Regions from separate parts of the Homo sapiens genome. Here region 1 is linked to region 2. A link means that fine-mapping ties the variant in region 2 to the expression of a gene that starts in the linked region. Tissue or cell type: blood mononuclear cells. Region 2 holds a variant in brackets; the other region holds the start of a gene. All regions are shown on one strand. Distances are between the middles of the regions. Region 1 holds the start of PIGC (phosphatidylinositol glycan anchor biosynthesis class C). Region 2 overlaps DNM3 (dynamin 3).

The links.
Region 1: PIGC starts here. The variant in region 2 is fine-mapped to the expression of PIGC in blood mononuclear cells (TOPMed, PIP 0.93).

What each region holds. Positions count from the first base shown.
Region 1 is chr1:172,441,840-172,447,222 of GRCh38, reverse strand. PIGC (phosphatidylinositol glycan anchor biosynthesis class C) reads left to right here and starts at 3,154. Exons shown (of 2, transcript NM_153747.2): 1 at 3,154-3,235; 2 at 4,393-5,383. The coding sequence starts at 4,601. C1orf105 (chromosome 1 open reading frame 105) reads right to left here. Exons shown (of 7, transcript NM_139240.4): 2 at 2,065-2,150. RefSeq lists enhancers at 2,766-3,075, 2,799-3,322.
Region 2 is chr1:172,389,083-172,394,465 of GRCh38, reverse strand. The region is part of intron 20 of DNM3 (dynamin 3); the gene reads right to left. LOC102724528 (a long non-coding RNA gene) reads left to right here. Exons shown (of 3, transcript XR_001738294.3): 3 at 56-715. Among named protein-coding and RNA genes, the nearest start is that of C1orf105, 29 kb to the left of the region's middle. The variant C/T (reference allele first, on the strand shown) is at 2,911.

The DNA.
Region 1 (5,383 bases), 53 kb before region 2:
AACTCTTTGCTCAAGGGTATGTAATGCTTAAGGCACATTGAGAACTTTCTCCCAAAGTCTCAGTAAGGGGCTTTGCCAAAAATAAACAGCTTGGAACCCGGAGCTTTGGCCCACATGAGGAGCTTTTAATCCTTAAGATCTTTTGATACTTAAACCATCCTTTCAAAAGACTTTTCATTCCCGTCTTGTCCTCCTGAGAGCTCAGGGCACCTCAAAGGTGCTGTTCGGTCACCTTTGTTGTGAGGTAGGTATATTACATTTTTCTAAACAAGAATTAAGATTGCTACCCCAATCCTCCCAGAATAGCGATGAGTAGAGCTTCACTGCCTGCCTAAGGTAATTTCTCCTTGTGCCTAGCTTAGGTTTGGCTGGCTGGAGGAAAAACTGCCCACTCCCTTTCCAGTTGGCTGTCAACAGACTGTCTGCTCTGACCCTCCAGGACCTGGCTATGAAAGTGAACAGGTGCTGCCGATGCCCAGTTGTATTCTAGGCCTACCCTTCTCCCTGATCTCCACCCTCTGCCAAAGGCTTGTGTAATTAGAGACCAAGGGAGCTGGGGGCAAGAGAGCCATGCACAAGGATACTTTGCTCTTCGCTGCTGGGGCAGGTCTAATGGGCATGGGGGTAGTATGGGATGGTGGGATATTACCCTATTAGATCAAACACTAGCAATTTCACATAAAACATCCAGATTTCTAGTACTGTTAGAAGACCCAGTGGATCTGGCCTCTGGACTCACATGCCTGCAGGTAACACTGCTGGCGTGGGGGTGGGCTGAAGCGGGGAGGTGATTTCCCATTCATTGCAGTCCTGTTTGGCCAGCTTTACTCATTATGCCCCTCATCTGACTGTCATGGGCCTGTGAGTTTGTGTCCCACCCTCAATTAAAATATGCTAGACTGTCCTTACTCGTGCTGATCCATGCAGTGTTAACAACTCTTAATAAGCACTCTATCACTTAGTACTTTTGTTTCTTAAATAGGCCTTTGAGTTTATTGAACCTCTGATAATCTGCTTTCGTTATATTCAAAATTATGTAAAAATAACACAACTGAATAACGAGCACTTGAAAGCACTTGTGAATTTTGTTCTGAAAATACTAAAACCGTCTACCTATTTACTGAGAATGAGATTTTTTTTTAATGTACAGTAGACAAAGCAAAGGTACATGTTACTAAAGTGGGGATGTGGAGACAGTGATGGGAATTTGCTTATGAAGTCACTTATCCATGGGCAGGAGGGTACATGGTAGTTATCAACAGGAGGAGAAACTCTTTTTGGGGAGTCTGGCTTTTCTAACGAGCTGTTTCGAATGCCAAGGAGTCATTCCTTTTTAGTCTGTCGTGTGCCTTTGGAATGGCCTCTATGCCTGCCCTTTCTCTTTCTCTCTGCCCTCTTTCTGGTTTCTCTCATTCACCCCAACACTACCTCACACCTACCCTTCTGTCCATGTCCCCTTCCCAGAGTGGGGTTTATCACTACACTTAGGAACCATTTCATCAAAAATGGAGAAGGGACACGGTAACCCAATTATTTCAAGAGACAGTTGAAATGCTCCCTAGATATGTAATTCCTGCAATTTTGAAAAATAGATTTATGTGTCATATAGTAGTTTGTTTGGAAGGAGTAGGACTAACAGGAATGTAGGAGGGTGCCTCAAAGTTACATACAGAGTTACTATTCTATAAAGATGGGAACTTACTGTTCTAGACTTTTGATGGTAAAAATGTGAAAATTTCAGACTACAGCAGTGGAGAAAATGTGGGGTGAGAAAGAGGATGGAAGTGTTTTGAGAGACAGTGTCTAGGGGAAAAATTATCTTATACTGTTGAGTGGTAGTGGTGGAGAGGGAAAAATTTTGAGATCTCATCTCCTCTAGCCAGGCCTATACTCAGTGATCATTTTTTTCTGAGAAACCCGGATTATTTCTATTTTTAAAGCACTTGACTTGAGTTTCTCAATGGATCAAATGTGCCCTCTGATAATTGTCCCCATCCCTTAAGAAGAAATCATCTTCTGTGAGATGTTTCGTAAAACTTTTGCCCTCGGTGGCTGAGAGGTTACCTTCTGGGAAGGCTGAGCACTAATGGCTTGTTTACAAGGCTGGCCTCACTAAGCCAAGGAATCTTGTCAAATTTTGGAACAGAAGCCTAGAGGGAAATAGAGAACATTTTACAGAATATATCACACTTAAACATTGCTATCATTACGATGGCCAAAGTCAGCTAATAGCAGCCATATAGTGAACACTTTACAAACCATTTTTATATTTAACTCTTTAACCATCCTATAAAGTAGCCAAGTGCAAATAATGTCATCTCCATTTTACTGATGAAGAAATCAAAGCTCAGGTAGTGTGATTTGCCTTGAGTCACTGAGCTAGTAAATGGGTCATGTTTTCTGACTTTTATTTCCACTGTATCCTGTGTTTTACTACATCCCTTTGTTTCTTTATTACTTCCTTCTGTTTATATATCCTTTAATATTTCCATGAACTCAGTTTAATTAGCAATCTTGTCCTCACTTCTTTTAGGAGGTAAAGAGGAAAAAAACCAAGCTTTGAAGCTATAGACAACTGGATATTGATCTCTGTTCATCTACTTCCCAGGTGCCTGTCTTTGGACAAATACAACTTATCTGAGCCTTAGATTTGTCCTCTTTGAGGGGGGAGATGATATAATCAGTGTAAAGGTCAATGCACCAAAAAAGAGAGTTTCATGAGAGCAGCAATTTTTGTGTGTTTCATTCACGGCTGTATCATGAGCACCCCAAGCATGGCTTGTTACATGCAGGCATTCAATCAGTATCTGTGGAATGAACGCATGGATGCACGGGAAGTCCCAGCTGAGGGCCTGACTTAATAAAGGAGCGCAACAAAAGCGGCCATTATCTCTCACCTACTGGCCCAGCCTCTTTCCTTGTCCTCTCTTGCCTTACCCAGTCCTTCAGATGGCACATCCCATCTTTCAATAGGGGATTGCTGGGGATTTGCCTTCCTAGGCTCAGAGCATTCGGGTTTGGGCCAGTCTCCAGGAGAGGAGACCGGAGGTCCTTCGAGCAGCCAGGAGGGGGCAGCAGTCACGTCGCGATGGTTCCAGCCGGGGAAGGGTGCCCTCGCTAAGGAGATTGCGGCGGACCCGGAAGTGCTTGGCCACAGTCGCAGCCCCGGCGCCCCGAAGCGGGAAAAAGGCTGGGTGCCGCCGTCCCCCAGCTGCGCAACCCTAGGAACTCTCGGGTAGGTGGGTTCCGTGTAACGGTCAGTGTTTCCGGGGCTCCTTTTCCTCTGCTGCCTCCCGCAGACCCAAGGCTGAGTGAGGGGCGGCGGCGGAAGTGGGAGGCCCACCCAAAAAGCCAAATGGGGTGCCAGAAGAGTGAAGGCGCACCCTGGGGTCACCCTACCCTACCCCGTCCCCTCCCAGCCCCACTCTGCGGGCGGGCGCTGCCCTTTTGGGCGTCGCAGACCCTCCAACCCCGGCGGCGGCCTTAAGATTCCCGGGCTGGGATCCCTGCTGCAGAGGGGGTAACGGTGTCTGGCTTGCCAAGCAATATTTGTTGTGGTCTATCATGGAAGAAATAAAGTCGGGCAATATGAATTTTTTTTTTCTCAAATTTGCCGGATGGCTGTGGTGTTTCTGACTCTTAGTTTTCTCATTGTGAAAAAGGAATGATTATCTTCTTCGATCCTCTCAAGAGTTTCCTTGTTTTGAGTAGATTGATAGCTCTTTAAAGGATGCTAAGCTCAGCTAATGGAAGAAGAGTCTAGTTTCTTTGAGGCTTTGATTTTGGTTAAACTATAGAGCTCATACCTTTCTGTATGGTGCAGCTTACTATTGTCTTTGGATTGGTAACTTAAAAAATACAAATAACATGCCTTTGAGAACCAATAAAAACTATGGATATTATCCCTATAAATTTACACAAATCCAGATATAAGCATGCAATGTGATATACCTAAGGGATATGTGAACCACTGAGTTAAGAACTGCTTTAGAGGGAGATACAATGTGAGACACAGGCTTTGGGATAAGACTTTGGTTTGAATCCTGGCTCTGCTCTGTTACCTTAGGGCAAAGTTACTTAAGCATCTTGAATCTCAGCTTTTTTACCAAAGCAGGACTAATACTAACTTACAAGGTGGTGAGGATTAAGTGAAAGAAGATACATAAGGCACTTAGCACATAGTAGGTACTCAATAAGCGATAGCTAACAGATGTCTATTATTATTCAAGGAATTATAATTTTCAAATCTGAAATGCAGTTTTAATGTCCCATAAGGTGACTACCACATACATTTTTCTCAGACTTTTAGTAAACTGAGTTGATTTGACTTTATCTCAGTACTACTCTTGACCTTTCACAACTTTCGTAGGTTCACAGTCTCTCTTTTTCTAGGAACTTGGCTGTGTTGTCCTGCCTCAGAGACAAATTCATCTATTGTAGGCCTAGCCCCTGCCTTTGAAAACAAGGAAAGGTTGGTAGAACATCAACACAGCATGGAATTTCCAGGGAGGTCTCATTTCAAAACTTCATAAAGAACAAGAACCACCTGGACTTCTGTGAGGGCGATGATTAAACTGGCCTGAGTTTGAATGAAAGGATAATGTATGCTCAACCTGTGACTAACACCAAGGAGGTCAAGTGGCAGAAGGTCTTGTATGAGCGACAGCCCTTTCCTGATAACTATGTGGACCGGCGATTCCTGGAAGAGCTCCGGAAAAACATCCATGCTCGGAAATACCAATATTGGGCTGTGGTATTTGAGTCCAGTGTGGTGATCCAGCAGCTGTGCAGTGTTTGTGTTTTTGTGGTTATCTGGTGGTATATGGATGAGGGTCTTCTGGCCCCCCATTGGCTTTTAGGGACTGGTCTGGCTTCTTCACTGATTGGGTATGTTTTGTTTGATCTCATTGATGGAGGTGAAGGGCGGAAGAAGAGTGGGCAGACCCGGTGGGCTGACCTGAAGAGTGCCCTAGTCTTCATTACTTTCACTTATGGGTTTTCACCAGTGCTGAAGACCCTTACAGAGTCTGTCAGCACTGACACCATCTATGCCATGTCAGTCTTCATGCTGTTAGGCCATCTCATCTTTTTTGACTATGGTGCCAATGCTGCCATTGTATCCAGCACACTATCCTTGAACATGGCCATCTTTGCTTCTGTATGCTTGGCATCACGTCTTCCCCGGTCCCTGCATGCCTTCATCATGGTGACATTTGCCATTCAGATTTTTGCCCTGTGGCCCATGTTGCAGAAGAAACTAAAGGCATGTACTCCCCGGAGCTATGTGGGGGTCACACTGCTTTTTGCATTTTCAGCCGTGGGAGGCCTACTGTCCATTAGTGCTGTGGGAGCCGTACTCTTTGCCCTTCTGCTGATGTCTATC
Region 2 (5,383 bases):
ACTTTGCCTTATGTAGATCCTTTCTTATTTTCCTTTTCCTTTTACCCTCTTACAGCATAGGATGTTTGGAAGAGTGAGATAGGGGACACATTGAAAACAGAGAGGCAATCTGAAGGCTACCTTGACGCATCTGCAAAGCTCCCAGATTCTGACTTTCACAAGACTTGCTTTCTGTTTCTGGGCCTCGCCTAAACAGACTGCCAGTCATCCGAACCGTGGCAGGATGGAGATGTTTGTGTAAGGTAGACTCAAGTTTGCAAGACTCAAGAAGGAAACCACCAAACTAATTTTACTTTCACTTAAACCAGATTGAAACCAAGACTTGAAGAATTAAAAACTTTGACATTAACCATTGATTCACTCCAATGAAATAATTGTGTTATAGCCAGAATCATGGTGAAATTGGAACAAGGCTTTTGATGGGATTTTTAATTGAGGGACTTATATTAAATTGGATATTTTCTTTAATGAACAGCATGTGGCCAAAATTCTATTTTCATTAAAGTATATTAAGCATCATGACAACTCATATTAAACCTGCAACAAATGATTAATGACATTTAGAGACTTCAAATGTCATGAGACACCTTAAATATTAAGAATCAAAAAGAACACCTCAAAGTTGTTTCTATTCTTAGTAATTATGCTTAAAAAAACATCTTTCCTTGCTTTGAAAGCCAGTTGCTAAAAATAAAAACTGTTCCATGAAAAATCACAATGCCCAATGATAAATTTATGTATTTGTTTTTTAAAGGGGGAGGATGGTGAGAAAAATAGAAAGCTCCTGGCTGACATCAGAGGTCACAAGATGAGTTCCTCATTTGTCCAAATGACATTCAGCTGCTAAAAGAAGTCAGACTTTTAGAGGGCTGTTGAAAAGACAGTAAGTCAGGAGGTTTTCAGTACATGACTGCAGGGGAATCAGACACAGGCTAGTCACTTAAGTTGCTTAATTGTCCGTGTACCCTTAGCCCACGACTTCAGGGCTCAGCAGCTTCATCCTTCATGGCACCAAACCTTGACGTAAGGGATTCAAAGACACACTCATAAGAATCGTGAATTTGTCCTCATGCAAAATTTGGGGGACTGGCTACAAAACCGAAACAAGGAGATCGTATCCCTAAGTGAAAGGGACTTTATATTAATTGTCAGTTATAACAATATGTAAAATACATAAAAGAGATAGAGCACTGCAGGCCATCAAGGTCAAACATTTGAAACAGAATTAAACTAAATTATAAGGAGGATTAAATGGCTTTTGTCTTTGTAAAGAAAAGAATATGCATGCATTGATTGCCTATGTAGAAGGATTAATAAATCTTTTGGCATGGTCGATTTGTAATAAATTACTGAAAATGTGGGATTACAATGAAACTCTTAAAGTGTGCCACATAAGTCAAGGAAGCCACCTAAGTCATGGGATGGGCATGAGTGAGACACTCTGGAATAATCTTGATGCTACTCTGGGACTGCCCTTGCAGGGTGGGACATCAGCTTCACTAAGGGGCTCACCAGAGACTCCTTCAAGGGAGCATTTCTTGGTTTCCATATTGTGTTTATGTCATTTTGATGAGCTGGAGTAAAACCCAAATCCTTTCGAATGATTCAGTTTTGTCTTTTTAAAGAGAAACCATCATACTTGGTGAACAAGGGTGGTCAAAAAAAGTACTTGAATATTGAGTGATGAGGTTAAAAAAAAAAGTTTCTTCTTGCTTGGTTGGAGACCCTTCCTCCCACCCTTATCCCCTTTTGACTATTGCAAAATAGCTTAGTCCAAGGAAAGGGAAGAAGACAAATGAGTGAAATAATGCCAGAGTTCATTATTGCCAGGAAAAACACACTCGGATTCAGTGAATTTGTTCCGTTAATGTCAAAGACTGTGATTCCCAATTAACTAATTTTAAGAAGCTATATCTGAAAATAGTTACATCAGCTCTAAAGTTAATGTCTGATGAAGATCAGGATCTTCAATTAAGAGAATAGGAACCCTAAAGAGGTGGTGATGTCTGTTTAAGATCATCTTGTTAAGTAAATAAATACACACTGGATTGGATTTTCAAACAGCATTTAGCCCCTTCAGAGAAGTTGAGTGGAGGTGAGAGGGGAGGTGACAATCCAGATATTCTGGCAATAGAAAATGTTCCACAAATCACTGATTTGTGTATACTCAAGTTACCAATGACAGAAGCATACATACTAGTGAATCTCTTTGGGATAGAGATGCTTCTCTAGTTCAAGTGGAATTAATTAAAACAGGCATGTAGTTTGCAATATTTCCAGCTCCCTAACTGAAAGGCTCCATGCACATAAACCAGAACAGCTTGAGCAGCTGAGAAAAGCTGGGCCAAAAATGACTCCACCACCTCTCTCCTTCCTCTCCTTTTATATTGGAATGGAAAGATACAATAATATATATTTTTTAAAAGCAGAACACTCATGGTTTCTGTACAATTGCAAGTGTGCTTTGATTACCTTTGAATGGCGTTAACATAAAAGTATATATGCTCTTAAAAGTCAAGATCATAACTTGCTAATGAAGTCGTGAATTATCCAGAAGAAAACTATGCACAAGCCCATGCTGAATGGCAGAATCTCTTGTCTCTAAAAGTTCAGTTATTGCCTTTGTAATATTAAAGCCCAACAGGGAGCTGGCGGGACACCTTTTGTGCTGTCTTGTCATGTTATAGGTTTCTGGTTTCAGATACAAGAGGAGAAAGGACCCTTAAGAAAGTAAAAAACTTGAAAAAAAAAATCAAACTTCCTTCTCTGAAAACAAAGGGTTGTTTTCCCAGAGATGATGGATAATGGCATTTCAACTTTCTAAGTTTTTGATAGAGAAAATGGAGGCAAAGCACAGAGGGGAAATAGAATATATTAAACAAACAGAATAAGGTGAAGTTTCAACAAGCG[C/T]TTCTCTCAATTTCTTTCTTTCTCTCGTTCTCTCTTCCTTTCTTTTTTTGAAATCTTAAACCCCATTTCTGGCTTGTATTTGGTAGGATTCCTGCTCTGGCTTTTATTAAAAACAGACTTTATGTGGTCAGAACTCTCCATCTAAAGCTGGATTTAACAGGCATGGGGATCCTGACAGAGTCTTTCTTGCCCTCTCTCAGGTGACCACCCCTCCCCCAGCCCCCTTCCCCGGGATTTCCCTCCCAAAGCGCTGAACCAGCACAGAAACTTGAAGGCTCAGCACAAAACAACAAACTTTCCTCTTTTACCCTGTACTTTCATTTCTGTTTTAAATTTGGGACTCTTTGCATGGCCAGATCAAGTAAAGTCTGGTTCTAACTTGAGAGTATTCTAGAAATTTCAAATAAGGCAACTGTCATCCTATAAATTCCCTAATGTAGTCTCATTAAGCCCTGCTGCCCATGTGCCGGCCATCCAGCTCGGGCTACTCATTCTCATCCGGCTGCCTTGTTCGTGCGAGCTGGAAAATACTAACGGCAACTCCACCCTGCTTAACAAGTCAGCTTAGCATTCAAAAGTTGATTTTTCTGAAGGGTACTGGCAAGCTAGCTCATCTGAAACCCACAGGTAAAGCAGTCAAGCAAGCAGGCAGAACATGCATGTTCATTCCCCAGGACAGGCACCACCAGTTTGCTCTGGTTTTTTCTCACAGCTAGACAGACAAAAGTAGCTCCTGCATGGCACTCCAGCCTTCCCACTCTCAACTCTTCCTCTTCCAATGGCCTCAATACCTTCCTGGTACAATGGCAGACACTTTCCTAGTCAATTTGAGGTTTTCTAAAATAATAAATTGGATCTTGCTTGTAGCAAGGCTCAATGCGGAAATTCATGGTTTTACATGGAAGGGAATTCTTTTGAATACTACAGTGCAGTGGTTCTCACGTGGAGAGGAATTTTACTCCCCTAAGGGACATTGGGAGTGTCTACAGATATTTTTAGTGGTCACAACTGGGGACTGCAACTGAAATCTAGAGGGTAGAGGGGAGGGATGCTGCTAAACATCTTACAATACACAGGACAGCCCTCCACAACAAAAACGTCAGTACTGATGAGGCTGAAAAACCCTGGGGTCATGGTCAGGAAATGGCTTTGGAAGCAGACTGCATGGGATTAAAGTCCAGCTCCACTAGGGACTGGCTGAGCAGCCTTGGGCAAGCTGTTTAACCTCACTGCCTCATCTGTAAAATGTGGATAACAACCTATTTGTTGTGAGCTTTAAACAAAAATGTATATACAAAGTTCTTAGGGCAATGCCTAGTAATATTGAGGGCACAATAAATGTTGGCTATTGCTAGTACTGCTATTACTAGAAATTTAGCACCATTCCAAATAATTTATAAGCCAAGTCTATTGAATTTAGAGAAAAAAAATTGGATTGAGAGTGTGTATATATCCTCTTTGCTTAGGACCAAAATGATAACAGTGGTAACAACTGTAGTCTTTACAGTGTATCAAACTCTTTCAAATACCTCATGTCATATGATCTGGGGAACAACCTTATTGAGTTCTCCCTGTTTCATAGATAAAGAACTCCCGTCTCAGAGTTAAATGAGTTGCCCAAGACCTTCAGTAACCCAGGTCTTCTGACTGCAAATCTCCTGCCTATTCTTGCTGTACCACCCTCTGTGTACTAGCTTAAGATCCCCCTTCTTCTCTTCTCTTCATTACGCTTAACAACTTGAAGATTAAAATAAAACGTAAGTGCCATAATCAGTTGGCAAGGTGGCTCAGGCTTCAGGGATGGGTAGAAGTCACATCTGTTTTTATGGTTCATATACAGTCAGATATTCCTTCATGGAGTATATAAATATTTTAATTCTCTGAATTGAATTTTTTAAAAATTAACTTTATATATGGGCTAATTTTCTTTCCTCTTTATATTTCTGATTTTGAGGGGGAAAAAAACCTTAGTACTTTATACCTTAAAAATCTCTGATTCTATTCATTGTGTATATTTTGACTGTAAGTATATGAAGGTGAGACTACAGCTCCAACTATGTGTGTTTCTAGGTCCATTATTTATTAGCTATATTGTTTCACAATTAAGCCTGAAAATCCACTTATAATTGTCAACACGTATTATTCAGATGTACAATGATCTATCTTATATATGATTAGTGACTGTATACAACAATCATGCCTATATTAAAATTTCTATGTGTAGTTTTTAAAAAAACAATTGCAGATCAATCAGCCAGATTTATTCAGCCTATATGAAAATTGGTAAAATTGAGTATAAGGATCACAGTTCAGAAGGCAGATGGATAAAATTCTCTAAGTCAGTGGTTTTCAAGAATTCTTTTGATAATGGAGAAGGCAAGACTTTAGTCCATGGAACTCTCATGACCTATAGAACACACAGCTTGCTACAATCCTCCATAGCTCTTTTGTTTCAAAGCCCTCAAATTCTCCC